6 linked regions of the Homo sapiens genome follow. The protein of the gene in region 1 interacts with the protein of each later gene in a biochemical or structural test. Each region holds a gene or a part of one and is shown in the gene's direction. Other genes may lie near its edges. The genes, in order: MAPKAPK5, TLK1, HSPB1, YAP1, PARK7 and POLI.

Region 1 (4,937 bases):
CTTAATTGGTTGTCAACTGTTTCCTGAGGCTGCTGTGAGATTTCAATAAACTCTGGAAGGAAGGCATCTTAACTGCTTTGTAGACTGCAGTTATCTTTAGGCATGTAGCTACCAAGTACTGTTATTGGACTTTGCAATAAAATGCTGCTGATACCACCTGAAAGATTGTATGGTATAAAAATGTATTTTAAGAGAATTGTACATAAGATGCTTCCTGCATGTGAGCCACCTTTCTGTGATTTCTTCAGATTTAATAATATCCTAAGATCTTTGTAATTCTGAATTATTCCTGGTTATATTCTATGTTGACATCACATTTTATTGCTGTAGAAATGATTTATGTCACAAACAATACTAGGAATCCAGCTGATAATCACTTCTTGCAGAGGTGAAAAGCTAAACCCTCAAGGCTTATCTTCATACCAGGCAAGCAAAGCAAAGAGAATTAGGAAGCACAGCCCAATTGCTTCTTAATAAAAAGTTCTTCCAAGTTTCCCATGAACCTTAAGCAATTTTGGATGCCTCCTTTCTGGTAGGGAGGAACTGATACTTGGATTGCTGAGAAAATGCCATATGGAGAGTTAAAGAACAAGTAAAATCTGTTCTTTCTGTTTGATTTTTAAAATTATACCTTTAATTTTTTCAAATATTAGGATTAAAGGATGAGCTCTGATAATCTTCTATAAAATAAAACCCCTTCAAATCCACATAAACAGGCAACATTTTCAACAAGCATGATGAGCAAAATGAGTTTCCAGTATGAATTGGAAAAACCCAGTCAGCTGATTTCTTGACCCTCAGCTCCCTGGAGAGTGCCATTCTTGTCTGAGCCCTGCTGTGGGAACTGCGCCTGCTGACCATTGCTCAGCTTAGGTGTTTCTTCTGCAGTGTCTGTCATACCTCAGATGAATGAAAGTGGGAGCATTTCATTTTTCCCATTTCTTACAGGATTTACCCATCAGTTTATTCTGACAAAGAATTGCTGTACCATCATATTTTTCTTTCTGTCTGACAAAATACAAGTTGCAGTTAAACTAAGCTTAATCCATTCTGTTTCTTGGTATTCCAAGTTTTTCTTAATTTCTGCTTTAAAATTGAAAGTGAACGCAGTCTTAATGAAGGCTTGTTTTTTGACATCCTGAGTTCTCTACGCCAGGTGTATTAAAGAGTGGTCTTTTCTAAGAAGCGACTGTTTCATTGTGTCTTTTTTCAGATAGCTTTGGCTCTGCGGCACTGTCACTTGTTAAACATTGCGCACAGAGACCTCAAGCCTGAAAATCTGCTTTTTAAGGATAACTCTTTGGTGAGAAGACTGTTTTTCTGCATTTTAGTGCTGCAACTCTTAACATAGTTCAGGAGTGGGTGTGTTTGGAGCGCTCTGAATTCATGGTGAAAAAGCTTTAAGCCAAAGTGCTTCAAACAGCTTATTTCTTCAACTCGTTCCCTTGCTAGAGGCTCAGAGAAGCTGTACTACTGTACTCCCGGCATTGATAATTTTGGATGATACTGATATGTATTTGTGGGACTTAATGATTTTGGATATTATTTGGAGGACCTTTGGGAAGGGGCAGGAATCTGTATGCTGTTATATATTATCTCGTTTCATTTGCTGTTTTCCCTTTCAGCTCTGTCCCCTGCCCCATGTCTCACCAGATAAGTTGCTCTGTCTATCATGAAGCTTATGGCAGATATTAAAAGTGAAGTAGCATCCCAGATTGATGAGAGGTGATGGGCTTATAGAGTGAAGGGTCCCTAGGCCAAGACCTTGACGTTAGTGCTGCCCTTACAAGTTCTAAAGCAAAAATAGCTGTGTGAGTGGGTAGGAATTCCTTACTTCTGCATTACTAAGGACAGTTCCTCAGTGTGAATCATTGTCTCCAGACCTGGGGACATGTTATTTTCATAAGTTCGCATCTCAGCTGGAAAGAAACTTGTTAGATCTCAGGGTAACATGTCTTACACCTGGATTTTCCTTTAATGTTTACTGAGCACTCTGGAGCAGTGACTCCTTTTTTTTTTAATTTCAGGATGCCCCAGTGAAGTTGTGTGACTTTGGATTTGCCAAGATTGACCAAGGTGACTTGATGACACCCCAGTTCACCCCTTATTATGTAGCACCCCAGGTAAGCATGTGCGGTTTCTGTCCTAAGATCTGTCACCAAGCTGCCCATCAACTCGTGTTCCTTCTATTCTACAGCACAAGTAGGCATATATTACAGATGGGAGGGGGAGAACTTAGCTTTAGAAACCTACAGATTGCTTTATTTGGTGTAGATCTTTTATTCTTTTAAAATCAACTTTAGCCAGGTGCGGTGGCTCACGCCTTTAATCCCAGCACTTTGGGAGGCTGAGGCGGGTGGATTACAAGTTCAGGAGATGGAGACCATCCTGGATAACACGGTGAAACCCTGTCTCTACTAAAAAAAATATAAAAAATTAGCCGAGTGTGGTGGCGCACACCTGTAATTCGTGCTACTCAGGAGGCTGAGGCAGGAGAATCGCTTGAACCTGGGAAGTGGAGGTTGCAAGGAGCCGAGATGGCACCACTGCACTCTAGCTTGGGCGACAGAGCGAGACTCCGTCTCAAAAAAAAATAAATAAAATAAAATAAACTTTATTGAGGTATGATTTAGAAGTATGATTTACATACAGTAAAATACCTCCACTTCAAGGAGAGTTTGATGAGTTGTGACAAATATATACCCCATATGGCGACCACCACATTGAAGATGTGGAACACGCCCCTCACTTCACAAGCTGCCTGTGCCACTTTGCAGTCAGTCCCCTCCCAACTTAACCCCTGGCCCTAGGCAACCACTGACATGCTTTCTGTCATTATTGGTTAGTTTTGCCTGTTGAAGAATTTCAGAAAAATGTAATCGTGGACTTTGTATGCTTCATTTCTTTTGCTTAGCATGTTTTTGAGATTTGTCCATGTTCCTGCATTTATCACTCGTTAATTCCTTTTCATTGCCAAGTAGTATTTCATTATATACCTAAGCTGCATTTGTTTTTTCCATTCACTGACAGGATTTTGGGTTGTTTCTCATTTTTGGCTATTATGAAGAAAGCTGCTAGGAACACTTCTTTTACAGTTTTTGGGGGACATGTTCCCCCATGCCCATATCTTTTTTCCAAAATGGCTATACCATTTTATGCGTCTACCAGCAACGTATAGAGTTCCAGTCATTTCACATTTTTACTAACGCCTCATGCTTGTTGCTTGTCAGCATTTGTCATCTTAGTCATTCTGGTAGCGGGCAGAGTATTACTTCATTATAGTTTTAATCACGACATTGTCCTGATGGCCACTATTTTGGAGCACTTTTTGTACATGTGTATTGGCCATTCTGTTGTAAGTATGGGCATTCATCTTTTGCCATTTTGTTATTGTTGGTTTCTTGTTAAAGAATTGAGGTATAAGAATTTTAAAATATTCTGGACACAGGTTCTTTGCCATATGTATGTTGTATTCTTACTGCTGCTGTAACATATTGTCACAAACTTAGTAGATAAAAACAACAGAAATGTATTATCTTATACTTCTGGAAATGAGAAGTCTGAAATGGTACTCAGTGCTATAATCAAGGTGTCAGCAGGGCTGTGTTCCTTCTGGAGGCATTTCTTGCCTTTTCCAGCTTCTAGAGGCTGCCTACATTATTTGGCTTGTAGCCTCTTCCTTCATCATCAGAGCCAGTAGCATAGCATCTTCCAATGAGTGTCTCTCTCTATGACTTTGACCCTCTTGCCTGCCTCTTATAAGGACCCTACTGATCACATTGGCCTTACCTAGATAACTCCCCATTTTAAGATTCTTAACTTAATTGTTCTGCAATACAAGGTAAAATAATCCCAGGGATTATAACATGGACATCTTGGGGGGCCATTATTCTGCCTTCCATATATATATCATGAATATTCATCTCAGTCTGTGACTTGCCTTTTAATTTTCTTAATGGCCTTTGAATAGCAGAAGTTTTGAATTTTAATGAAGTCTGTTTCACCATTTTTTTTTTAATGCTTAGTACTTTTTGTTCCTAAGATCCACAAGCATAAATATTTTCTCTGATGTTTTCTTATAAGAGGTTATAGCTTTAGCTTTTACATTTGGGTCTGTAATTCATCTGAGTTTGTGTGTGTATGAAATGAGAGACCAGGTTCTTTTTTTCCCCCTTAAGGGTGTCAAGTTGTTGCAGCATCATTGGTAAAATGTTTTTTACAAATCATCATTTGTAAAAGGATTTGTAAAAGGATTGCATCATTGAATTGCAGTTTTTTGTTTGTTTGTTTGTTTGTTTTTGAGACGGAGTTTCATTCTTTTTGCCCAGCCTGGAGTGGTGCAATGGCGCGATCTCGACTCACTGCAACCTCTGCCTCCCGGGTTCAAGGAATTCTCCTGCCTCAGCCTCCTAAGTAGCTGGGATTACAGGAGCCCGCCACCATGTCCGGCTAATTTTTTGTATTTTTAGTAGAGACGGGGTTTCACCATGTTGGCCAGGATGGTCTTGATCTCTTGACCTCGTGATCCGCCTGCTTCGGCCTCCCAAAGTGCTGGGATTACAGGCATGAGCCACTGCGCCTGGCCTGAATTGCAGTTTTGTTGAAAACCAGCTGGCCATATATCTGTTGGTCTTTTCTGGATTCTATTCTGTTTGTTTAATATATGTATGTGTCTATAGCAAGAGCATCTGCATTATTGTAGCTTTATATTATATCTTGACTTCAGATTCATTCTTTTTCAAAATTGTTTTGGCTATTCTAGATCCTTTGCATTTCTCTACATTTTAGAATTCACTTCTGTATAACAGAAAAGCCTCCTGGGATTTGACTGGGGTGGTATTTAATCTATAGGTGAATTTGGAGAGAACTGATATCTTAACAATATAAGTCTCCCAATCGATGAACAAGGTATATATCTCTCCATTTGTTTAGGTCTT
Region 2 (4,937 bases), on another chromosome or scaffold:
TAAATTATTTGGCAACAGTCAAACTGTTCAGAAAATACTTAGCATTGTAAAAAAATCTGTAGCTAGGCCAGGCGCAGTGGCTCATGCCTGTAATCCCAGCACTTTGGGAGGTCGAGGCGGGCAGATCACAAGGTTGAGAGATCAAGAGCATCCTGGCCAACATGGTGAAACCCCGTTTCTACTAAAAATACAAAAATTGGCTGGGCATGGTGGTGCGTGCCTGTAGTGCCAGCTACTTGGGAGGCTGAGGCAGCAGAAATGCTTGAACCCGGGAGGTGGAGATTGCAGTGAGCTGAGATCACGTCACTGTACTCCAGCCTGGCGACAGAGTGAGACTCTGTCTCAGAAAAAAAAAAAATTCTGTAGCTAGAACTCAATAAGCTTTTTCTGTTAGTTTAAGTACATGATTGAAAAATACCAATTTTAAAGTGAAATATTTTATTAGATCTTCAATAAATTGGGAATTGAGAAACTGTTGGAGAACTGGAAGTTAATAACATTTATATGACCAACTACCATAACACAAATAGCCATTTCATGTTAAAGTTTATTGATTTTATTATATGCCTGACATCTGATACCTATACGATGAAGTAACTGCTGCAGTTCTGTAGGATTTTTAATGGAAGCTTTATTTAAAAATACATCTAGAAGTATACTTAAGAATGTAAGGGTTTAAAGCAGCAGTTCTTACCCCTTGATGCTCCTTAGACTCACCAGTTGGGAAGGGTGAAAGTACTAATGCCTGAAACTCTACCCTGAGGGGTTCTGATCAAGTTGATGATGATGTAGGTCTTGGACATTGGTAGTTTTAAAGGCTCTCCCAGATAACTTTAATTTAAGACAGCATTGAGAACTACTGGTGTAGAAACTCGATAAAACCAACACCTGTGATCCTACTGTATTTGACAGTGTCTTTAAAACATCCAGTGTGTCTTTTTCCTGATCCTGTCATATTTACTTTCTCACACCCATTTACCATTTAACCACTATTTTAAATTTTGTATTTGTGATGCCTTGGTGTTTCTTTATGGTTGTATTAAATATGTGCTTACATTCTTCACAACATATTATTTCAGTTGGTTTTTGAACGTTAAGTGAAATTTTCCAGTATGGACCCTTTTGCCCAGCTTGTTTTCAATGAAATATATCAGAGAGTCATCCACTTTGATGAGTATAACTGTAGTTTGTTCATTTCATTGCAATATTGTAAGGTGTTACAAGTATACCATAATTTCTGTATCTTTTCTGCTTTTAGTTGACATTTTATTTCTACTTTTTCTAGTATAAACAGTTCTAAGAACATTCTTTGTACATGTCTTCAGGGCACATATGAAAGAATTTTTCTGTGGTATATGTTTAGGAAAGACATAGCCAGAGTACAGGGCATACGCATTTTCCATTTTACTGTATAATACCAGTTATTTCTCAAGGTTTTTTGGTCTGGTCTTTTTTTTCCCCCGCTAAGTGACAGGGTCTCACTGTGTCGCCCAGGCTAGAGCACAGTGGGGGATCATAGCTCACTGTAGCCTCAAACTCCCGGGTTTAAGCAATATTTCTACCTCAGGCTCCCAAGTAGCTAGGACTACAGGCTCATGCCATCACTCCGGGCTGATTTTTTTTTATTTTGTAGAGCTGGGAGTCTACAGGCTGGTATTGAACTCCTGGCCTCAAGTGATCCTCCCACCTTGGTCTCCCAAAGTGCTGGGGCTATAGGCATGAGCCACCATGCCCAGCTGATCTTTCAATATAAATTATTAGTCTTACTGAAATTGGTTTTGGGTATGGCATGATGTAGGGTTTCATTTCAATTTCTTTCTATATGGATAACCAGTTGTTCATCCCCATTTAATTAAAAGCTCATTCTTATACTGCCAGCTCTATCATCATAAAATCTTGTTTCCAGTATACAGGTGGATCTGTTTCTGTGTTCTGTATCATGTTTCCTTGTTCTGTTTGTGTCTCTACACAAGTACTGCAGCATCTTTTTATCATTGTTGATAAAACAATTTTTATCAGTTGTTTTTGGCTGTTAGTAACAGTGAACATAAATAACAGTACTTCAGATGAGATAGAAGCTTATTTTTCAAGAGAAGAACAGAAGTGGGCAGCTCAGATATTATTACTCCTCAGTATCATAAGGGACCTTGTCATTGTTAGTTCATGGCTTATATCTCAAAGGTCACATCAAGGTTCAATATATCTATTAGGGTCACAATTATATCTGTGTTCTAAGCAGATAACAGGAGGGAGGATGGGAGCAGAGAACACAAAGCACAATTCTGTGTGCAGCCTTCTTGGATATCTCATTGAACAACTTCTGCTTGCATCTCATTAACCATCCTTCGCTCTAAGGGAAGCTGGGAACTGTAGTCATTTGGCTAGGCAGATAGCAATCCAGGATAAAACATTGAATTTCCATTATTAAGGAAGGAGGAGGCTTGGGTGATCATAGTTATGTAGCTTTATGTTAAGTCATGATACATGGTTAAACAGATATCCTCTTCTTCTTTTTGGCTATTTTTGGCCCTTCACAGTCTTAGAGAAATTTTAGAATCAGGTTTCAAGTTGCATATGCATCATACACACACAGTGTTGAGATTTTGTTTGAATTGCTGAGGGTCTATTGGTGCTAAATTCTGTTTCCTCTTCCTTGAAAAACAACTGTGTTGGGTATCTAATTTTAGGTTGGCAATTCTTTTCTCTCAGCACTTTTAAGATTTTGTGCCCTTGTCTTGTGGATTCCACCATGGTTGGCCTAGACTTTTGATTCTCAAAGTGTGATCTTCAGACCAGGAGCATCAGTATTACTGGAGAACTTATTAGAAACGGAAATTTTCAGGTCCTTCCTGAGACCTGATTCAGAAGCTCTGGGAATGGTTCCCAGTAATCTGTTGTAACAAGCCCTATAGGTTATTCTCTTGCCACTGTACTAATCAGACTCATCTTTTGATGTTAGAAGGAAGCCTCTTCTCTGAGCATATGGCCACCTACAAAGTGAACAGAATTAGTATCCTATTGCTAAGGAAGAATGGTGAGGACAGTTGTTGGGTAGGCAACTTGTGTATGTCATTTATAAGTTCAGTGGAGAAAATATTTTGTTAGTTATAAGAGATAGAGGAAAACCCACATTTAATTTGTTAATTATAAGAGATAGAGGAAAACTCACATTTATTTTTAAGTGATAGACACTTTATATACCATATTTTAGTTATTTTTAACAAAGTGAGGTAGATTGTGTTGCTTCTATTTAGAAATAAGAAAGCTGAACTAAAGTTCTTATAACTTAGCCAAAGTTAACCTTAGAGTATGGATTTGAATGTATGGATATGGATACAAATTTCCCTGTATGTACTTTCCACTACACACTTAAGTAACATTTAACAGTATTATCTCATGGTTAAGTAGGCTTTTTTTTTTTCTCGTATCATACTCAGATATTTAATATTATTAGTCCTATCTGTATATAATTTATTTAGAACATTAAAACTATTTCTAAGCTTTTCATATTCCCCAGTCTAGACCTCTTGCATTTTCTACTTATGTCATAGGCTAACTGTGATCTCAGACGGCAAATAGATGAACAACAAAAATTACTTGAAAAATACAAAGAACGATTAAATAAGTGCATATCAATGAGCAAGAAACTTCTTATTGAAAAGGTAGGCTAAAAGTTGAGTAAATTTTCGCTTTCCCTTCATTAGCCCCTTTTGCTTTGTATGCTTTTATAAATTAATGAATACAATTGAGTGATGATTTTTTTTCTCCTTTTCAGAGTACACAAGAAAAGCTGTCAAGCAGAGAGAAGAGTATGCAAGATCGATTACGCCTCGGGCACTTTACAACAGTTAGACATGGCGCTTCATTTACTGAACAATGGACAGATGGTTTTGCATTTCAGAATCTTGTGAAGTTAGTCATTCTTAACATTTAAAAGTTTTTAGTATTCGTTTGGGTTTTCATTACTTTAAAAGATTATAGATTTGTAATTATGCTCTCCAGTTCCTCGCTACTCTGAAATCATAGAATTTAGTACCTTTGAAAGGGATATGAAACCAAGAGTATTACAGTTTTAGCTTAGTAATTTCTTGATTAATTAGCAGTCATCTATAGAATGTAATATATTATTCTAATTCTGACTTTCCGAGATATTAATTGAACCTTTAGCTTTACAGATGATGTTTTGAGAGGGAAATTGTTGAAAATTTAATTTTCACTGGAAGATTTGTGTGTGTGTTTATTTCCTAGGATTTTCCTACTTAGTTTTTTCCCATTCCCCAATCCTTACATGTTAATGTTCAGCACTTGCCTGCTCTCTATTCCTAAGGGAAAAAACTTCTCTTTTGCCTCAGATATAATAACTGATTTATCAGTTAAACTGAACATGTGGCTTTAGCGTTTCTGAGGTAAACTCTATTTATTATTTATTTATTTTAATTTCAACTTTTATTTTAGTTTCAGGGAATATATATGCAGGTTGTTACAGGGGTATATTGCTTGATACTGAGGTTCGGGGTACAATTGAACCCACCACTCAGGTAGTGAGCATAGTACCCAGTAGTTTTTCAATCCTTGCCCCTGTCTCTGCCTCCTTCATCTTTGTAGCCCCCAGTTTCTATCATTCTCATCTTTATGTCCATGTGTCTCCAATGTTTAGCTCCCACTTATACATGAGAACATGCGGTGTTTGGTTTTCTGTTACTTTTCAGATCAAACTTTTAAACAGAGGAATTATAGTTACCATATTTTCTTGAGTTCAGATGGTGGTAGAAAAGGATTTATTGGCTGTTTATGTGTTAAGGAGTGCTAAATATGCTACTCCGTTTTTGGTGGAAAATTTTTTTAAACCTGAAAATGGGGAGTAATGCCAGCATGAACATCAGCTTTTCCAGAGTATCCAGTTATTTGAAATAGAGGCAGAACTTACTTTCACATGG
Region 3 (4,969 bases), on another chromosome or scaffold:
TGTGGGAACATCTCAGAGTGGACTTACACAAACCTAGATGGTCTAGCCTACTACACACCTAAGCCATATGGTCTAGCCTACTGCTCCTAGGCTACAAACCTCTACAGCATATGACTGCACCAAATATTGAAGGCAGCTGCAACATGAGGGTAAGTATTAGTGTTTCTAAAGATAGAAGATGGCCAGGCGCGGTGGCTCACGCCTGTAATCCTAGCACTTTGGGAGGCCCAGGCGGGTGGATTACTTGAGGTCAGGAGTTCAAGACCAGCCTGGCGAACATGGTGAAACCCCATCTGTACTAAAAATACAAAAATTAGCCAGTGTCGCGGCACTTGCCTGTAGTCCCAGCTACTCAGGAGGCTGAGGCAGAAGAATCACTTGAACCTGGGAGGTAGAGGTTGGAGTGAGCCTAGATCAGGCCACTGCACTCCAGCCTGGGCGACAGAGGGAGACTCCATCTCAAAATAAATAAATAAATAAATAAATAAAACATAGAAGATGTACAGTAAAAACACGGTAATTGTTTTTGTTTGTTTGTTTTGAGACAGGGTCTTGTTCTGTCATGCGGACTGGAGTGCAGTGGCACCATCAGGCTCACTGCAGCCTCGACCTCCTTGGCTCAAGTGCTCCTCCCACCTCAGCCTCCTGAGTATCTGGGACTACAGGTCCACGCCACCATGCCTGGCTAATTTGTTCTGAATTTTAGTAGAGATGGGGTCTCACTGTGTTGCCCAGGCTTGTTCCAGCCTTCTGGCTTCAAGTAATCCTCCCACATCAGCCTCCCAAAGTGCTAAGATTACAGATGTCAGCCACTGCACCCAGCCAGTAATATAATTTTATGGGACCACCTTCATATTTGCTGTCCCTTGCTGACTTACACATCTTTATGCAATGCATGACTGTTACCATCATTATCATCTCTATTTTCCAGATGGGGAAACTGAGGCACAAAGAATCTAACTTGCACAAGTTCATCTGCTTAGTGATGGAACAAAGATGTGAATTCAGGCAGTCTGGCTTCAAAGTCCACACGCCTAACAACCACACCAGATTACTAGATTGCTTTTTTCTTTTTTCTTTTTTTTTTTTTGAGATGGAGTCTCACTCTGTCACCCAGGCTGGAGTACAGTGGTGAGATCTCGGCTCACTGCAACCTCTGCCTTCTGGGTTCAAGCAATTCTCCTGCCTCAGCCTCCCCAGCAGCTGCGATTACAGGCGCCCGCCACCACACCCAGCTAATTTTTGTATTTTTAGTAGAGATGGGGTTTCACCATGTTGGCCAGGCTGGTCTCAAACTCCTGACCTCTGGTGATCCTCCCACCTCGGTCTCCCAAAGTGCTGGGATTACAGGCGTGAGCCACCACGCCCAGCCCAGACTGCTTTATTTTTGTATTTGTATTTATTCATTTACTTATTTTGAGACAGGGTTTTGCTCTGTAGCCCAGGCTGAAGTGCAGTGGTGCAATCCAGCTCACCACAGCCTCTACTCACCGGGGTTCAAAGGATCCTCCTGCTTCAGCCTCTGGAGTAGCTGGGGCCACAGGCATGCACCACCATGCCCAGCTAATTTTTAAATATTTTTTGGTAGAAGTAGGGTCTCACTATGTTGCCCAGACTGGTCTCAAACTCCTAGCCTCAAGGGACCCTTCTGCCTTGGCCTCCCAAAGTGCTGAGATTACAGGCATGAGCCATGCACCCAGCCCCTTTTTAAAATTTTTTTGAGAGACAAGACTTTGATCTGTTGCCTAGGCTGGAGTGCAGTGGTGAGATCATAGCTCACTGCAGCCTCAACTCCTGGGCTCAAGCACCAGACTCCTTTTATCACATTCTATCTCACACGCGTGTGGTTCCAATCCTGCCTCTGCCACTTCTCAGTTGTATGCCCCAACCCAACCTGTCTGGCTCTGTCCTCCTTAACAGAAGGACGGCCCTGGCCACGGGCCACAGCCAGCAACGCTTAAGCACCAGGGCCGGCGAGTGCCCTGCCGTGGCACGGCTCCAGCGTCGCGCTCTCGAATTCATTTGCTTTCCTTAACGAGAGAAGGTTCCAGATGAGGGCTGAACCCTCTTCGCCCCGCCCACGGCCCCTGAACGCTGGGGGAGGAGTGCATGGGGAGGGGCGGCCCTCAAACGGGTCATTGCCATTAATAGAGACCTCAAACACCGCCTGCTAAAAATACCCGACTGGAGGAGCATAAAAGCGCAGCCGAGCCCAGCGCCCCGCACTTTTCTGAGCAGACGTCCAGAGCAGAGTCAGCCAGCATGACCGAGCGCCGCGTCCCCTTCTCGCTCCTGCGGGGCCCCAGCTGGGACCCCTTCCGCGACTGGTACCCGCATAGCCGCCTCTTCGACCAGGCCTTCGGGCTGCCCCGGCTGCCGGAGGAGTGGTCGCAGTGGTTAGGCGGCAGCAGCTGGCCAGGCTACGTGCGCCCCCTGCCCCCCGCCGCCATCGAGAGCCCCGCAGTGGCCGCGCCCGCCTACAGCCGCGCGCTCAGCCGGCAACTCAGCAGCGGGGTCTCGGAGATCCGGCACACTGCGGACCGCTGGCGCGTGTCCCTGGATGTCAACCACTTCGCCCCGGACGAGCTGACGGTCAAGACCAAGGATGGCGTGGTGGAGATCACCGGTGAGCCCCCCTGCTCCTGCAGGGGAGAGGAGGAGGCTAGCAGGGCGGGCAGGGCCGGGGGCGTGCGGTTGAAACGGGGGTCCCGGGGGCCTGGGGAGTTAAACGTTGGCCCAGCACCGGGAAAAACAGGACTCCTGATTCCCTTGCTCAGGAATTGGGAGTGCGGGTCGCTTCTAAGGGCGCTTTCTGCTCTGTAATCCCAGCGCTTTGGGAGGCCGAGACGGGAGGATCGCTTGAGGCCAGGAGTTCAAGACTAGCCTGGGCAACATAGCGAGACGCGCCCCCCCGCCCCGACCCCGCGCCATTACAAAAAAAAAGCAAACAAAAATTTTTTTAAAGATCATCGATGAAGAGAGAAAATGCGCTTTTCTACAGAGTCCCCTTCCCACCCACAGCCCCATCCCCAGATAAGCGGGGAGTTCCCTGGCGCGGTGCCAGTTTCTAGCCGCTGAGTGGGCGTGTGCGCGGCTCCAAGTGCGCCTGCGTACTGCTCACTCCCCAGCTCCGCGCCCTGCTCCGTTCCTCCCAAAACTCTGAATCGAAGAACTTTCCGGAAGTTTCTGAGAGCCCAGACCGGCGGGCACGCCCCCATCCCCAACCCCCTCTGTTAATCCCTACCAGCCTGCAGTCCTGGCTGCTTCCAAGCAGGAGGTGGGGCCTCTGGCCTAGCGGGGCCGAAAGGCAGTCCCCTCCCCCGCAGTCTGATTTCCCTCTTCCCCCCAAAGGCAAGCACGAGGAGCGGCAGGACGAGCATGGCTACATCTCCCGGTGCTTCACGCGGAAATACACGTGAGTCCTGGCGCCAGGTCGGGGTGGGTGGGTGGCGTGGGGGTGGGGTCAGGGAAGAGGGCACAGGGACCCACCCGGTGTGTAATGTAACGCTTGCCTTTCCTCTCTGCACGTCCAGGCTGCCCCCCGGTGTGGACCCCACCCAAGTTTCCTCCTCCCTGTCCCCTGAGGGCACACTGACCGTGGAGGCCCCCATGCCCAAGCTAGCCACGCAGTCCAACGAGATCACCATCCCAGTCACCTTCGAGTCGCGGGCCCAGCTTGGGGGCCCAGAAGCTGCAAAATCCGATGAGACTGCCGCCAAGTAAAGCCTTAGCCCGGATGCCCACCCCTGCTGCCGCCACTGGCTGTGCCTCCCCCGCCACCTGTGTGTTCTTTTGATACATTTATCTTCTGTTTTTCTCAAATAAAGTTCAAAGCAACCACCTGTCACTGGCCCAGGCCCTGGTGTTTGTGGAAGGAAGCCTCAGGCACCTGCCATTTGCTGGCTTTCAGGAGTCATCTTTGCTCAGGCCCGTGCTGGGCCATGTGGGTACACTGGTGTAGGTTGCTGGACACAGGCTGACTCACATCCATAAAGACAGAGGTCTTAGGGCCGGGCGCAGTGGCTCATACCTACAATCCCAGCACTTTGGGGGGTTGAAGCAGGAGGAGTGCTTGAAGCCAAGAGTTCTAGACCAGCCTGGACAACATAGTAAGACTGTCTCTAAAAAATAAAAATTAGGCAGGGTGGTACTGCACGCCTGTAGTCCCAGCTACTCAGGAGGCTGAGGCAGGAGGATCGCTTGAGCCCAGGAGTTGTGAAGGGTACAGTGAGCTAACATCGTGCCATTGCACTCCAGCCTGGGCAACAGAACAAGATCCTGTCTCAAAACAACCAAAAGCCCAGAGAGAAAGAGTGAGACCCCATCTTTAAAAGAAAAAAAAAAAAGGTCATGATTGCAAGGTCACGATTGCAATTAAAACTGTAAGGTGGGGAAGGAGGAGGAAATAAGAGAAGCACCTGAGGCTTGAGTTCTCAGGAGCACCTAGGTTGGGTCCCAGGTGAAGGGGCACAGAGGTAATTGCACCTCAGAGCTGATGGGAGGATTACTATGTCAAAAGCTTGGCATCGGCTTCAGCACACCCCAAGGACACCACAGTGGACCTGGCAAGCTTTGAGATCTCTGTCACCGCCACACTCCCTGAGGCCAGGGCATCCCTGTTGGCAGTCACAAGGGAACTGGCAAGCCGAAATGGGGTGAGAACGGAGCCCGCAGAGTCTCGGGGTGGGGAGATTGGGCAGAGCCCTGGCCAACCGACGGGCTCAGACCTGTGCTGCTGGCTGGGCCAGCAGCTCTTGTTGCCTGTGTTTATTTCCAGCTGGCCTCCCTCCAGGTGTAGACAGGCTTCCAAGGGCCCAGTTCCCCTCTCTCTTGTCTGCCCTTGCCCTAGCTGCCACCCTCTCACCAGGCCCAGGGAAAGTTGAGGTAGAAAGCAGATGGGGGACCAGGCGCGGTGGCTCACACCTATAATCCCAGCACTTTGGGAGGCCGAGGCGGGTGGATTACCTGA
Region 4 (4,937 bases), on another chromosome or scaffold:
GAGACCAGCTGGGCAACATGGCAAAACCCTGTCTCTACAAAAATACAAAAAATTAGCTGGGTATGGTGGTGTGCCTCTGTGGCTGCAGCTACTCATGAGGCTGAGGCAGGAGGATCACTTGAGCCTAGAAGGTCAAGGCTGCAGTGAGCTATAATTGCATCACTGCATTCCAGATTGGGTGACAGAGTGAGACCCTGTCTCAAAAAGATTAAAAAAAAAAAAAATCTAGAAGCACATCTTATAACGTAACTACTGTAGCATTGAAATAGCAATGATCATAAATGGTATTTTAAAATATTTGCAACAACTACAATGTGATATGAAAACATTTATATGTTCTATTGGTGAAAAGTTAGGTACAGTGAATACTAATGGTGCATACTACATTGGAGAAAATGTTGACAAATTTAGCGAAAGTTAATGTGTAATTTTTTTTTTTTTACCCCATTGAAGTTCAGAGACTCTCTGAATTCTGTCATGGTCCGCTGGTTAAGAAACTCTGGTTTAAAGGATGGTATATCCAGAAGGCATAAACCTAAAGAAAAATAAGTGGTATTTGCATGCAGGAGAATTGTAGTTTAGAAGTGGCAGCGTAGAGCTAGGAGAAGCTTTCCATACTTCAGGACCCCATGGCGATTGTGGAGGTGAGGGCTGGAGATGGTGGGGCCGTGCCTCAGTGAGCAGACTTGGCTCAGAAAGCTGTGTGGAAGGATGACGGAGTCAGGCCAGTATCCTTTGTGATAAGAAACTGTATGTATTTCAAATCAAACCCAAAAAGTAGAGGGAAAGAAAGCTGATGGTCTAGTAGAGATGATGTTTACGATAGGTGGAGAGGCACAGTGAAAATTCTTAGGAGGGTAAGAAACAGTGAACAGATAAAGGAGAGAAAAAGGACAGAGTAGTAATGAGTGTGCTACGGATGGGTCACAGTGAGATGAACTGTTTTTGAGGTCCTGGGCAAATACAGGCTGAAACCTGGGAGGTTTGGAAGCCCTTGAAGGCAGGCCTTCTGCAACCATCAGAGTAGCAACCTACAGCCTTTGCTCAGGTTTACAGGGAGAATCCTGCTGAGAAATTGTTGGATGACCCTGAAGAAATTTTACCCCATTTTAAATATTATGTTTGTGGTGGAGAAGCCTTGGGTTTGTGTTTTAACTTCTGATGTCTTTTTTTCATTTTCCTCCTCTCTCCCTGCTAGAGGATGGAACATATTCTATCCAGCTCAGGATAGAAAAACCTAAAGTCAAAATGAGACATTTAATAGCAAAGTGTGAAATAGTGTTGGGGGTTGGGGAAGGATTGGTGTCTTATAGTAAAATCATCAGATGCTATTCTTCCTACTTCTTTTTTTTTGGCGGGGGAGGGGGTCGGGGGGTTCCAAACACACAAAACCATATAAGAGTTGTCGAGTAAAAGCAAACTTTAAGAATTATTTTTTTAGGGCCGGGCGCGGTGGCTCACGTCTGTAATCCCAGCACTTTTGGGGGGCCAAGGCGGGTGGATCACGAGGTCAAGAGATCGAGACCATCCTGGGTAACATGGTGAAACCCCGTCTCTACTAAAAAAAATACAAAAAATTAGCTGGGCGTGGTGGTGCGTGCCTGTAGTCCCAGCTACTCGGGAGGCTGAGGCAGGAGAATCACTTGAACCCAGGAGGCGGAGGTTGCAGTGAGCCAAGATTGCACCACTGCACTCCAGCCTGGTGACAGAGTGAGACTCCGTCTTGAAGAACAAAAAAAAAAAAAAAAAAAGAAGAATTTTTTTTTAAAGACCAGACTTGCCATTCTATAATAACCCAAAGGAGGATTTGGGAGTATCTTCCAGAGTAAGGAAAATAACAAAAAGAAAACAAAGTAGCAAAATGTATATAGGGTGGGGGGTGGTTAATATGACTAGACAGACTTTAAATATATGTAACTTAATTTTTAGTCATTTGAAATGGATAGAATTAGGTCATTCTGATTGGGAAATGTATTAACTTTAAAGTAGATGTTTTTAATCTATCTGCACGGTTACTCTGATGAACGTTTTATTTCTTTAAACCTAACATTAAATGTGTTAATCAGTAGATTGATTCTCTTTGGCTTTATTTTTAATTAGGAGTTAGCCCTGCGTAGCCAGTTACCAACACTGGAGCAGGATGGTGGGACTCAAAATCCAGTGTCTTCTCCCGGGATGTCTCAGGAATTGAGAACAATGACGACCAATAGCTCAGATCCTTTCCTTAACAGGTTGGTGAAAGTTGCTACTGGTGAATATCTGAAAAGGATCATTGCTTTAAAATCATTCTGCTTAGTGCTTGTAATAGGCTATTTGGAACATCTGTGTGGGCCAAAAACCATAGCTGTAAATGAATCTCTCTGTAAATGGCAAGTACATGCAGAGTTGAGGATTAAAAGTTGTCTCCTGTGAGAGGAAGTGAACTGTTCAGACTTGTACAAGGGATACTTATTCAAAGTCATGACGTGTTTGCTTCTGCCTATACTGTTGACTAACAGTTACTTAAAATTACAGAATCATGAAGGAACATGTGAATGCCTTTCTGTGAAAGCAAATGAATTTCATGTTAAACCTACTTAGGATTGCATTATAAGGATCACTGGAAGGAATTTTCCACATAGCTATTCAAGCTAAAACGTTTCACCCAGCAGCACTGTAAGGCCTCATGTTCTTAAGGGCTATAGTCCAAGGAGATAAAATGTAAGGTTGTGCCTCTTTCAAAAATGCACTAAGATTAACGGCAGTATTTGAAAATAACATAGCTTAGGGATGCTTCTTAGTGAGTTACCACAAATCCTGGGTTTCAGACAGATTGCAATATTACATAAACTGCCATTTTGAAGTCTGTAAGCTGAAACAGGTCATATTCTTTGCCTAGGAAGTCATTTAAGATTAAGATTTAACTAAAATTCCTTCTTCTAGGTTGTGGAGTTTCAAACTTTTTAAAATATGGGATTAGTTTACGCTTTGGATTCCTTTTCTAACTGATTTAAATAACACACTTTCTTAAATACTCAAAGGTATTTTGCACTAGGAAAACTATTACACCACCTTTTCAGTTCTCACCAATTGAATTGGAAACTTAGTAATTCCAAGAGAAAATATCTTATCCTGCTAAAAGTATTTAGTGCAATAGAATTCACCATTTACTCAGTTTTTAAGATTAGTACTGGTGGCCTAGTTGGAAGGTTTGATTTTGAAGACCATCTAAAATGTATTTTAAGTTTGTATTTACTCTTCTGACATACACTTTAAAGTTCTAAAAGTAAGTGTATTTATATAAGATTATAGTTCTAGACTTAAACTGAGGCTAATTAAGAGAGGCATAGCCTCAGAACTTTTTTTCCAACAAGGAAAATTTCATATCCATGTAATTCCAGTACCTGTCTTGTTGAAGGGGCTATATTAATCCCAGGGATAAAAATTAGACCATTTTAAAAATGGATAGGCTGCATATCCTTCTGACAGTCACTTATGAAGATTTTTTTTCTTAAAACTTTTGATGAGAGCTGGGCTACAATTTGAGATTCTATTTTCTGGGAAGATCAGAGTGGCAGATAATCAGTGTTACTAATCTAAGGGCAGAATTGTATATGCATTCTCTGCAGTACCCCCAGTTTCTAATAATAACATACATCTGACTTTGACTTTTTTTTTCTTTAAAAAAAAAAACAACTCTTGGCTGGGCATGATGGCTCATGCCTGTAATCCCAGCACTTTGGGAGGCCAAGGCAAGTGGACCACCACCTGGGGTAAGAGTTCGAGACCAGCCTGACCAACATGGCGAAACCCCATCTTTACTAAAAATACAAAATTAGTTGGGCATGGTCACGCATGCCTATAATCCCAGCTACTCGGGAGGCTGAGGCAGGAGAATCGCTTGAACCCGGGAGGCAGAGGTTGCGGTGAGCCGAGATCATGCCGTTGCACTCCAGCCTGGGCAACAAGAGTGAAACTTGGTCTCAAAAAACAAAAAGACAAACAAAAAAACCTCTTGATGGTTTTTCCCTTGTTTACTATTTGATTTATGTATATTCCTTAAGCTCTAAATACTTTTTGCCCCAACTTGCCTTGGCATTGACTCTTAGTAGTAATGCTGAGTTCCCTTAGTTCCCTTTTACTTTTACCCTCAAAGCTCACTCAGATGTCCCCCTCCATGAAACTTTTACCCTTTACTTCTAAGCTCCCTGTTTGTTCTGAAAGCACTGTGCTTACATCTGAGTTCATATAGCCCCTAAATATGATTCATTAGTATATTTGTTCATTTCCCTCCTTGAAGTTGTGAGCCTCTCACAAAACATTGTTTGTAGGTGGTGGTGATTGTTAACCTCTTTATCCTCAAAGCCTAGTCTAATGCCTGTCATGTAGTAGCAGATGCTCAGTGAATGTTTACTGAATGAGTGGGGCCTGTAGGAAGTGGGGTTCTGCAGGGAGCAGTTCCTCACCAGGAAAATGGCCCTGTAAACTCTGTCCTCAGGAATGCCCATGTGCTTCCCCTGTGGTTTGGAATGAACTCTGCGCAACTCTGTAAGTTCAGTTATTCAGTAATAGACTAAAATGTCTGATGTGTGTCCCATGCTTAGCAGCCGAATAGAGTGATGACTAGGACCAGGCTCTTGTCCCAGATCAGGGCAGGCAAAATACAAACAAACCACATCCTGAGGCCTTCTCATATATGGCTGCATTGTATACCAATGGTCTCAGAGGCAAATGTGTGTTTTCTTGGATCTGTGTGAGGCTTTTGAGCCTTGGCAAAATCTGGCAGAAGCATTAGAGTAAACCAGTGATGGCAGTATATAGAATGAGGGGAGAGAGAGAACAAGGCAAATGCATTGCATCATTTAGGGAAGGCAGTTGGGGTATTGACTGAGCTTTTAGCCTTGAGCAATTGTTAAACTTGTTTTTATTTTTTAACTTTTATGTAAGTTAAATAGCTG
Region 5 (5,426 bases), on another chromosome or scaffold:
AAAAAAAAAAGAAAAGAAAAGAAAGAAAACACTGGGGAAATGTTCCAGGGTATTGATCTGGGCAAAGACCTCAAAGCACAGACAACAAAAGCAAAAACAGACAAATGGAATTACATCAAACTAAAAAGTATATGCACAGCAAAGGAAACAACAAAGCAAAGAGACAACACACAGAATGGGAGAAAATATTTGCAAACTATCCATTTGATGAGGGACTAATGACTAGAATATATTAGGAGCTCAATAGCAAGAAAACAATCAGATTTAAAAGTGGGCAAAAGATCTGAATAGACATTTCTGAAGAGATACAAATGGCCAAGAGATATGAAAAAGGGCTCAATGTCACTAATCAGAGAAATGCAAATAAAGACAGTAAGATATCATCTCATCCCAGTTAAAATGGCCTTTATCAAAAAGGGAATAACATGCTGAGATGGATGTGAAGAAGGAACCTCATACACTGTTGGCGAGCATCTCAATTAGTGCAGCCACTATGGAAAACAATATGGAATCCTCAGAAGATTAACTTCTGAGAAATCATAAGTTCTGGAATCATAACTACCATATGATCCAGCAATCCCACTACCGGTATATACCAAAAAGAAAGGAAGGGCCAGGCACGGTAGCTCACGCCTATAATCCCAGCACTTTGGGAGGCCGAGGCAGGCAGATCACTTGGGGTCAGGAGTTCAAGACCAGCCTGGCCAACATAGTAAAACCCTGTCTCTACTAAAAATACAAAAATTAGCCAGGCATGGTGGCACACACCTGTAGTCTCAGCTACTCGAAAGACTGAGGCACGAGAATTGTTTCAACACAGAGGCAGAGGTTGCAGTGAGCCAAGATGGTGCCACTGCACTTCAGGCTAGGCGACAGAGCAAGATGGAGTCTCAAAAAAAAAAAAAAAGAAAGAAAATCAATATATCAAAGAGATATTTGCACTCCTATGCTTATTGTAGCACTGTTCACAACAGTCAAAATATGGAATCAACCAAAATGTTCATCAATGGATGACTGGATAAATAAAATGTAAATATACACAATGAATACTATTCAGCCATAAAAAATAATAAAATCCTATTTGCAACAACATTGATGGAACTGGAGGTCATTATGTTAAGTGAAACAAGCCAGGCAAAGAAAGACAAGCATCACATGATTTCACTCATAAATGGGAAGTTGAAAAGTGGATATCATGAAGATAAGTTGGTGGTTACCAGAGGCCAGGAAGGGTAGCCAGGAGAAGGGGATGAACAGGGTGATTAATAGGTACAAAAATTGGTAGAAGTGCTGGGCAAGGTGTCAAGAGCCCCAGCATCAGAAAGTGGTCGACTTGCTGGTTGGTAAGAAGAATTTATCGACAACAATATAGGTTTGAAAAAGGAAAGTTTTATTAGAACGCTGCAGAAGAGTGCAGCCTCAGCAAGAGAGAACTGAGCATGCCGCGGTGGATTTTTCATGTCCCTTTTCGAATGTCTCATTTTTTGCAAATTCAATCCAAGTTGCGTTCATTTAGCCAGGATCCTTCTAAGCTCATTCAAGAATTTTGGGCTTTAACTATTTCCTTTGATTTAACCTGGTACCAGGTGCCAACTTTAGATAATAGGGATATCTAATTACTTCTAAATTCCTCAGATAAGGGGCCTGCTTGATGGTCACCAGGTGATCTGTGCTCTCCTTAAGAGGGAATAAGACCTAGCGTTGGCAGAGTTCTGTAGGGTGACTATAGTTAACAGTAATCTGTTGTATATTTTAAAATGTTATTATTGAAGAGAGTAACTGGAATGTTCCCAGTATAAAGACAAATGTTTAAGGTGATAGAGATCTCATTTACCCTGATTTAATCATTACACATTATATGAAAGTATCAAAATACCACATGTACCCAGAAAACACATACGTCTCTTACATATCAATAAATACAACTTGAGATTATGATGTAAATACATCTGACCAACTTGGTACTTATTAGACTTATGTGCGCAGCACTGCTCTAGTCCTGTGGGTGCAGCAGCATCAGGATCGTTAAAGAAAACAAACAATGCTGAGAAAAAAACTCACACCCCTGAGACATCCGGGTGTGAATAAATGCGGCAGAGTCGCCCGAGATCGGGAGACCAGGCGTGGGGGAGAGGTCCGGGAGGCCTGGACCAGAGTCCTAACAGACCAGAGGCGAAACGGGAAGGCGCGCCAGAAAAGGAACAACGCAAAGGGAGCAGGCGTGCACGGAGCGCGAACTAAGGAACCCCTCTGACAACCCCAGTCCCTCGGCAGTTCCAGAGACCGGCTCCTCACGGAGGGTGGCGGTAGAGACTGTTAAGCCCCGCGGGCGCCGGGGCAGGCCGGACTGTGCCATTCGTGGGGGGTACCATGTGGGACCGAGCCGCCTCACCCAGGGCTGTCCAGCTAGAAACTCCCCGGTGCCACCCCCGCCTCAGTCCGAGGTAGACTCGGCCGGACGTGACGCAGCGTGAGGCCAAGGCGGCGTGAGTCTGCGCAGTGTGGGGCTGAGGGAGGCCGGACGGCGCGCGTGCGTGCTGGCGTGCGTTCATTTTCAGCCTGGTGTGGGGTGAGTGGTACCCAACGGGCCGGGGCGCCGCGTCCGCAGGAAGAGGCGCGGGGTGCAGGTCAGCGCCAGCGGGGGCGCGGCGCATGTGTGGGCCGTGGCGCTGGGCGGCGTGGGGGTGCTGGACGGTGTCCCTGTGCTGGACGGTGTCCCGCTGGCTCAGAACCGGCGCGGGGCCTGGGTCGGGGCCGCCCTCGCTTCCGGCCTCCCAGTCGGGCCCTGTCGCTGGCGTTGGATTTGACTGACCGCCAGCGTGGTGGCAACGCTGAAGCGTCCAGAATCTTCTGCCTAACCTCTCGCCGGCATGGAACTGGCTAGCCGTTTTATTAAACTCTGTTTTGCGTGGACGGTAAACCCTCCAGATAATCTGTAAATAGGCTAAAAAAAATTCGGAACCTCGTTGAGCTGCTGTCGTTGGCAGTGAGAACTCCGCGCAGAGAGACAGATGTAGTTGGGTTGACTTCAGTGAGGGGATTTCCATCTTTCTCAGTCATTAAAAAAAGTGTTCAGACATTTAACACTGTTGACCCCCACACACAATTTTTTAGTACAGTTATAACTAAGAAAACAAAAATCCCCTCCAAAAAATTACAAGTTAATTGCGAAAGACCACATTTAAATTTTTGCCCATGAAATTCAGTTTAGTCGTTTCTCTGAAACAGTGCTTCAAAAAAGACTGTTTCCCCGCATTGTGTGAAATGCAGGAGACCCACGTACTTGTATTTTTAAAAAACCCATTTGCAACATACTATTAAAGTTGGATTTAAGAGAACATGGTAGAAGAAAATCTAAGCAATACTACACCTTTTAGCACCCTCATTATGTTTTCATCTCAGAGCAATTAAAACTGCTATACAAATCAACGTTAAGATAACTAAACTGCTGCTTTTTTCGTATTCAGTTGTCTATGAAAACCGTTTCCCTAGGAAGTACTTACTCTGCTTGAAAATGCTCCTAAACTTTAAATTTTGGGGTATCTCAGGGTTGCAATGAAAGTTTTTTGAAATCTTTTTTTTTTTTTTTTTTTAAGGCTTGTAAACATATAACATAAAAATGGCTTCCAAAAGAGCTCTGGTCATCCTGGCTAAAGGAGCAGAGGAAATGGAGACGGTCATCCCTGTAGATGTCATGAGGCGAGCTGGGGTAAGTCCCACATCGATTTTTAGCCATTCCTGTTTTAAATGTTTTTGGATTTTTAAATCATTTTGAATAAAATATTCAAAGTGCTCTATGAAATATTTCAAATATACACAAAATTTCAGAGATGACATAAGAATAAATACCTGTTGATCCACTGCTCACATTTAACGCTTGTTAATGTCTTGCCATATTTCCTTCAGACCCATTTCTCTTTTGTTTTGAGCTCTGTCGTCCAGGCTGGAGTGCGATGGCAGGATCTTGGCTCATTTCGGTCTCTGCCTCCTGGGCCCAAACCATCTTCCCACCTCAGCCTCCCAAATAGCTGAGACTACAGATGCGTGCCACCACACCTGGCTAATTTTTGTATGTTTTGTAGAGACAGGGTTTTGCCATGTTGCCCAGGCTGCTCTCCAACTCCTGAGCTCAAGTTGTCCACCCGCCTCAGGCCTCCCAAAGTGTTAGGACTACAGGCGTGAGCCACTGCACTGTCCTTAGACCCATTTCTTTTTTCTTCTTTTTTTTTTTTTTTGAGATGGTGTCTCTCTGTGTCGCTCAGCCTGGAACGCAGTGGTGTGATCTCTGCTCGCTGCAACCTCTGCCTCCCGGGTTCAAGAGATTCTCCTGCCTCACCCTCAGCTGGGATTACAGGTGTCCGCCACCACGCCCGGCTAATTGTATTTTTAGTACAGATGGGGTTTCACCATGTTGGCCAGGTTGGTCTCGAACTCCTGGCTTCAAGTGACCCGCCCGCCTTAGCCTTTTACAGTGCTGGGATTACAGGCAGGAGCCACCATGCCCGGCCCCTCAGACTCGTTTCTTAAAGAGCAGATGCTTCAAAGAAATACATTTGAAGCCCCCTTTGTAAATTTCTCCAATCCTATGCCCCTTCTTCCTTCCTTAAAGATAAGTGCTATCCTCGCACTCTTGTGTATCCATGCATGTGTGTCTTTTTTTTTTTTTTTAAGACAGAGTCTTGCTCTGTCACCCAGGCTGGAGTGCAGTGGTGTGACCTCAGCTCACTGCAACTTCTGCCTCCTGGGTTCAAGCAGTTCTCTGCCTCAGCCTCCCAAGTAGCTGGGATTACAGGTGCGCACCACCATGCCTGGCTAATTTTTTGTATTTTTAGTAGATGGGGTTTCACCATCTTGGCCAGGCTGGTCTTGAACTCTTGACCTCGTGATCCACCCACCTCGGCCTCCCAAAGTGCTGTGATTACAGATGTGAGCTACTGCACCCGCCCCCACGCATGTCTTTAAGGTAGCATTTGACCGTGGTTCTCATTTTGCGTGTTTATATATTATCTCTCTCTATCTAAAAATAGTGAACAGTGAAGTGAAGTAGAACTAACTCTGTGCCAGGCAGCATTCTAAGTGCCGATAAACCTTACAACAATGTCGTGAGTTAGATATCACCATCCTCATTTTACAGTTGAAGAAACTGAGGCACAGAGACATAAATAATGTACCCACATCACGTAGTAAGTACAAAAGCCAGAACTCAGACCCAGGCAGCCTGGCCCCAGAGTCTGTTAACCCTATACTCCTCTGGTTCTCAGAAATGAAGATACATGTCGATTAAGTTTATCCACTTAAAATTGCTGCTTGGTGTTGCACTGAATGCCACAATCTACCCATTCCTCTAATTACAGCATTACAATTCTGTAATACGTATTCTTGTGTAGGTTTCTTTGTGCAAATGTGAGGAAATTTTTCCAGGTTAT
Region 6 (4,937 bases), on another chromosome or scaffold:
GAGCCTAGAAGCTCGAGGCTGTGAGCCGTGATTGTGTCATTGCATTGCAGCCTGAGTGCGCATGACAGAGTGAGACTCTTGTCTCTAAAAAAGAAAGAGAACCACAAGTACATAAAGACATATGTACAACAATGTTTATCATAGCATGGTTTATGATTGTCAAAAGTATGGAAGGAAAAATGCCCATCAAGAGAAATAGCCAAATAAACTAAAACATCTGTATAATGGATATTATATAGCCATTAAAAAGAATTCATTGGTGCAATACTATTTGACTGATGGAGATAGGGCTTGTTGAGTGAATAAAAGGCAAGGTACAAAGTCATGTATCATGTTTTTCCAAATGTGTAAAATTATGGCCTAAATGCCTCCTCTCATATTCATCATATAGATGAAGAAGAGTAAATCATTGTTTTGATTTGCAGTTTTCCATGAGTAAGGTTGAGTATTTTTTCATATATTTTTGGTCATTTATGTATTTTTTTCTGTTAACGTATTCACTTGCACCTGTTTTTAATTTGGGTTGTTCATCTTTTTCTAAGTACTAAGTACCTAGTACTTTTTGTGTTAGGTATTTTTTGAAAAAAGTTACTTTATCAATTTTTCTCACAGTATTTTTCTGAGTTGAAGTAGGCGCGTAGCCAGTTAGTCCTTTACTGTATTTATCTCTGATCTGTTTATAACCTTATTATTTATTTCATATTTTGATGCTACTGCATATATACCTTTCTTCAAGGTATTTTTTTTTTCTGTAATTACAGACTCCTCTTTTGGGCCCTATATAATTATATGTTTAATAAATGTATCTTGCTTATGAAGTTGATACCAAGAAAGAGGTTAACTTCAGGAATGGAGGCTGGGCATGGTGGCTTATGCCTGTAATCCCAACACTTTGGGAGGCTGTGGTGGGGTATCATTTGAGGTCAGTCTGGGCAATATAACATAGCAAGACCCTGTCTCTACAAAAGTTAAAAAAAAAAAAAGTTAGCTGGTAGCATGTGCCTGCAGTCCCAGAGGCCGAGGTAGGAGGATTGCTTGGGCCCAGGAGGTCAAGGCTGTACTGAGCTGTGGTGTGCTACTCCACTCCAGCCTGGGCAACAGTGAGACCCTGTCTCATTAAAACTACAGCAACAACAAAAACCTTCAGGGACGGGATAATTAGGGATTTGTCCTGTGACCTAAAATCAGTCAATATTTAGTGATCCACCAGCTTCGTGCATGATTCTGTATTTAACTTGCTTTTCTATTTAGTGCTTAAAGCCTTATCCTTTATTTTTCTTATGTAGTATTCTTTTGATAAACTCTTGTTTTCTACATGTTACTTTGCATATCAGGTATATACTTTTGAAAATAAATTGCCGAAATTGATGAAGGAAATGCAAAACAATCATTTTCTTTGATTAGACATATTGTCAGTCTGTCCTGAAAGGAGGTAATAGTTTTCTCTAGGTAATAGTTTTCTCAGGAGTGATTTTTGGTGTTTGCCATGTCACATTGTTACCTTTATTGGTTTCCCCTCACATTGTCAATGTTGACATCAACAAAACAAAAAAGCACCTTTGGTGTTTGTGAAAAAACATGATCTATGTGGAATGAGATAGTCCTTTTATTTCTGAGCTTCAGATTATATGACCTTAAGAATCTATGCATTTTTGTATACTAAGAGACTTGCATTTGTTTTCTCTTATCCAGCTGGTGTCAGTAGAAAGTGATTCAGAGGGAAGTGAAAAACTTTCTCAATGATTTTAAAGTTATTAGTCTCAATGTTAATATATGAAAATTGATAGTTTTTTTGAATTTATTTTGAATTTTGGTTCAGCTTAATCTAGTAAACATTTGACTTGAGGACTAGATATTGTGCTAGACGCTGGGCATTTGAATACCTGTAAGTTGTGGTTCATCTCTGCCTCTCTGTCCTAAGGAATATTCTTGGGAATGGCTAATAAAAATACCACGTTATAGTATATTTTGAAAGTTGACTGACTTTCTGTTTTATTCAGTAATAATTGGACATTTTAAATATTATTTTGTTTTGCCTCTTTTAAACTCTTGGAGAAAATATAGCTAAAATATACTATTACTTGTTTTTAACTTTCCTGAGCAGCCTATAGTTTATTCTTTGACACATTTCTTCAAGGTCACCAATTTACTATAAGCATTGATATTTAATGTACTACAGATATAAAAATTATAGGTGTAGAAGATTGAGCTAGATATATTGCCATGAATAACTGCCCTAGGAATGTCATTTTTAGACTTTTTTGAAAATATTGCCTTTATACAAGATGTGGTACAGAAAAAACGTCAATTAACTGAGGGCTTTATTAAAGATATTATGGAACTATGAATGTATATAAAACCTTTAACAATAAATTTGATAAATTTTTAAGCACTAGATAGTTAAATTTATCCTAGTTATAACTTCATTTACATTTGTGCTCCAATATTATTTCAATTTAGAATTACTGGAAGAATTTAGTCCAGTTGTTGAGAGACTTGGATTTGATGAAAATTTTGTGGATCTAACAGAAATGGTTGAGAAGAGACTACAGCAGCTGCAAAGTGATGAACTTTCTGCGGTGACTGTGTCGGGTCATGTATACAATAATCAGTGTGAGTGGGTTCTTATTCATTCTACCTACTAACCAAAAGTACATACATTTCTTAATGTTCAGTGAGTTCGCTGTGTGATTCTGAAAGATTCATGACTTTTGTTGGAGGTATAGTTATATTTAGTCAGTAATCTGTCTAGGACAGCTAAAATTAGGTGCTGCTATTCCATAATAAGTGTTAAGATTTTGATGACATGTAGCTCAATGCTCTGTGCACTTTTCATTTGCACAGAGCATTGTTCCTGTTCATCTGCACAGAGCATTCATCTGTGCAGAGTTTTCGTCTGACACAGTGCATTGGTTCCCATTTTAGAAAGCCATACCCAGCTGGGCACAGTGGAGCGCCCCTGTAGTCCCAGCTGTTTGGGAGACTGAGCTGAGAAGATTGCTTGAACCCAGGAGTTTGAGTCCAGCCTAGGCAACAGAGCAAGATCCCATCTCTTAAGGAAACAAAAAGCCATACCTCTGTAGGTCATTCTTAAGTTGTAAGAGTTGGCTTCTTAATATGCTTTTTGGAATAATTTTTTATTATTCTAAAACAATCTCTAAGCAGAGTTTTCAGGTAGGCTAGATTTGCCTTTGATGTGTCTTTTACATGTTCCCTTCGATTCCCCTTTGATGTGTGTTTTACATGTTCACTTCGATTCCCCTGAGACCCTCATGTTGCTCTCTGAATTCCCAAGTTAGCACTTTTGGAATGTTGTCCAGGGCTATCTGCCATGTGCTAGAATCTTCTCCAAGCTCCTATTTAATCTGTTCAAATAATCTTTGTCAAAGTTAGCAAGAAAGCAGAATGGTTTGTCTCCTTCATATATTGAGATATGAATGACTGATGGTGTTTCCAGTGATATTTACATTTGAAAATAAGCTGCAGTAAGCACCAGTGAATATCTGATTAGGCTTTCAGACATCTTATGACTCTGCTGGTGACTCCCCTATCATACCACATACAAGACAAGGTACTCTGCTGTTGTGTAAGACTTGTCTGACCCTTTTGCTCTTAAGCCTCCCCATGCATTTCCTCTTATCCTCTTTTTTGAGAACTAGACATCGGTCTACAGAATAGTTCTCCACAGAAGAAAAGCAGTAGAACCACAGTTTCTAGAATACATGGAGCTTTTCCTGTATCTTTTGTACTTGTGCTCATTTGTAACTTAAAAGGGCTAACTAGCAAGAATATTTCAAATATATTTCTGTATAATTTTTAAGGCAAACTTGGATTTTATTGGTTAGAGTACATTATAGAGAGCTAGGTTTTATATCCCAAAAAGGGAAATGTGGAATTATTGATTAATTCTTCCTCTTTCATACAGATTTTATTAAAATTTTTTGTAAACCTACAGAAAAGTTGACAGAATAGTACAAAAAATACCCATTATGTCTTTTCTTTTTTTTTTTTTTTTTTTGAGACAGAGTCTCACTCTGTCGCCCAGGCCGGAGTGCAGTGATGTGATCTCGGCTCACTGCAACCTCCACCTCCTGGGTTCAAGCAATTCTCCTGCTTCAGCCTCCCGACTAGCTGGGACTACAGGCATGTGCCACTACACCCGGCTAATTTTTTTATTTTTAGTAGAGACGGGGTTTCACCATGTTGGCCAGGCTGGTCTTGAACTCCTAATCTCAGATGATCCGCTTGCCTTGGCCTCCCAAAGTGCTGGGATTATAGGCATGAGCCACTACTCCTGGCCCATTATGTCCTTTCTTGTAGATAAACCAGTTGTTATCGTTTTGCCACATTTGCTTTCTCTTGTTCTCTCTATGGATTGCTTGGTTGGTTGATGAGCTATTTGGAAGTAAATTGCAGACATCCTGACATTTCATCTCTAAATACTTTTAGCGTTAGTCTCTTTGAGGTTAGGATGGTTTCATGTCATTCCAACACTGTTTTACACCTAAAGCAAATTTATTTTTATATAATTTTCTTACACTTTTCATAAAAGAGCTCTAAAACTGTGTACAGGTCAGAGATTGTTTCTAGCAGCATATACTGCTAGTGCGTGGTTAAGATTTAGATCTTTAAAGTATAATGTTAGCTTTCTTGTTATATAATAATACTTCTATGCCTACTTACGGGTAAATATGAGTAAAAGTTTTGCCAATGTCAGTAGGAATTTTTTTATGAGATCAGTTTTCACAATGTGTTAATTATTAAGCACTCCCACTACACAGTCACTATCACAGGCCCTTGGAATTTGCTTATTGAATTTGTTTACAGTATTCCTATGAAGCATGAAAGAGATTAGTCAAGTGGATAACAGGGTGGCAGTGATCTCTTAGTCCATTTAGTGTTGCTTTAACAGAATACCTGAGACTGGGTAATTTATA

What was found.
Region 2: the proteins of MAPKAPK5 (region 1) and TLK1 form a complex in vitro, tested with the Homo sapiens proteins (one large-scale study listed by BioGRID).
Region 3: of the proteins of MAPKAPK5 (region 1) and HSPB1, one has a biochemical effect on the other in vitro, tested with the Homo sapiens proteins (4 studies listed by BioGRID and IntAct).
Region 4: of the proteins of MAPKAPK5 (region 1) and YAP1, one has a biochemical effect on the other in vitro, tested with the Homo sapiens proteins (one study listed by BioGRID).
Region 5: the proteins of MAPKAPK5 (region 1) and PARK7 form a complex in vitro, tested with the Homo sapiens proteins (one study listed by BioGRID).
Region 6: the proteins of MAPKAPK5 (region 1) and POLI form a complex in vitro, tested with the Homo sapiens proteins (one large-scale study listed by BioGRID).

Annotation. Positions count from the first base shown.
Region 1 is NC_000012.12:111,869,058-111,873,994, forward strand, and holds part of MAPKAPK5 (MAP kinase-activated protein kinase 5), read left to right. Parts: intron 1-1,213; coding exon 1,214-1,303; intron 1,304-2,027; coding exon 2,028-2,123; intron 2,124-4,937. UniProt on the Homo sapiens protein: Tumor suppressor serine/threonine-protein kinase involved in mTORC1 signaling and post-transcriptional regulation. Phosphorylates FOXO3, ERK3/MAPK6, ERK4/MAPK4, HSP27/HSPB1, p53/TP53 and RHEB.
Region 2 is NC_000002.12:171,048,789-171,053,725, reverse strand, and holds part of TLK1 (serine/threonine-protein kinase tousled-like 1), read left to right. Parts: intron 1-3,551; coding exon 3,552-3,662; intron 3,663-3,775; coding exon 3,776-3,912; intron 3,913-4,937. UniProt on the Homo sapiens protein: Rapidly and transiently inhibited by phosphorylation following the generation of DNA double-stranded breaks during S-phase. This is cell cycle checkpoint and ATM-pathway dependent and appears to regulate processes involved in chromatin assembly.
Region 3 is NC_000007.14:76,300,451-76,305,419, forward strand, and holds HSPB1 (heat shock protein beta-1), read left to right. Parts: upstream 1-2,222; 5' UTR 2,223-2,262; coding exon 2,263-2,626; intron 2,627-3,351; coding exon 3,352-3,415; intron 3,416-3,533; coding exon 3,534-3,723; 3' UTR 3,724-3,842; downstream 3,843-4,969. UniProt on the Homo sapiens protein: Small heat shock protein which functions as a molecular chaperone probably maintaining denatured proteins in a folding-competent state. Plays a role in stress resistance and actin organization.
Region 4 is NC_000011.10:102,221,522-102,226,458, forward strand, and holds part of YAP1 (transcriptional coactivator YAP1), read left to right. Parts: intron 1-2,100; coding exon 2,101-2,231; intron 2,232-4,937. UniProt on the Homo sapiens protein: Transcriptional regulator with dual roles as a coactivator and corepressor. Critical downstream regulatory target in the Hippo signaling pathway, crucial for organ size control and tumor suppression by restricting proliferation and promoting apoptosis.
Region 5 is NC_000001.11:7,959,167-7,964,592, forward strand, and holds the start of PARK7 (Parkinson disease protein 7), read left to right. Parts: upstream 1-2,544; 5' UTR 2,545-2,627; exon of another isoform or gene 2,628-2,915; intron 2,916-3,596; 5' UTR 3,597-3,619; coding exon 3,620-3,709; intron 3,710-5,426. UniProt on the Homo sapiens protein: Multifunctional protein with controversial molecular function which plays an important role in cell protection against oxidative stress and cell death acting as oxidative stress sensor and redox-sensitive chaperone and protease.
Region 6 is NC_000018.10:54,275,243-54,280,179, forward strand, and holds part of POLI (DNA polymerase iota isoform a (long)), read left to right. Parts: intron 1-2,460; coding exon 2,461-2,613; intron 2,614-4,937. UniProt on the Homo sapiens protein: Error-prone DNA polymerase specifically involved in DNA repair. Plays an important role in translesion synthesis, where the normal high-fidelity DNA polymerases cannot proceed and DNA synthesis stalls. Favors Hoogsteen base-pairing in the active site.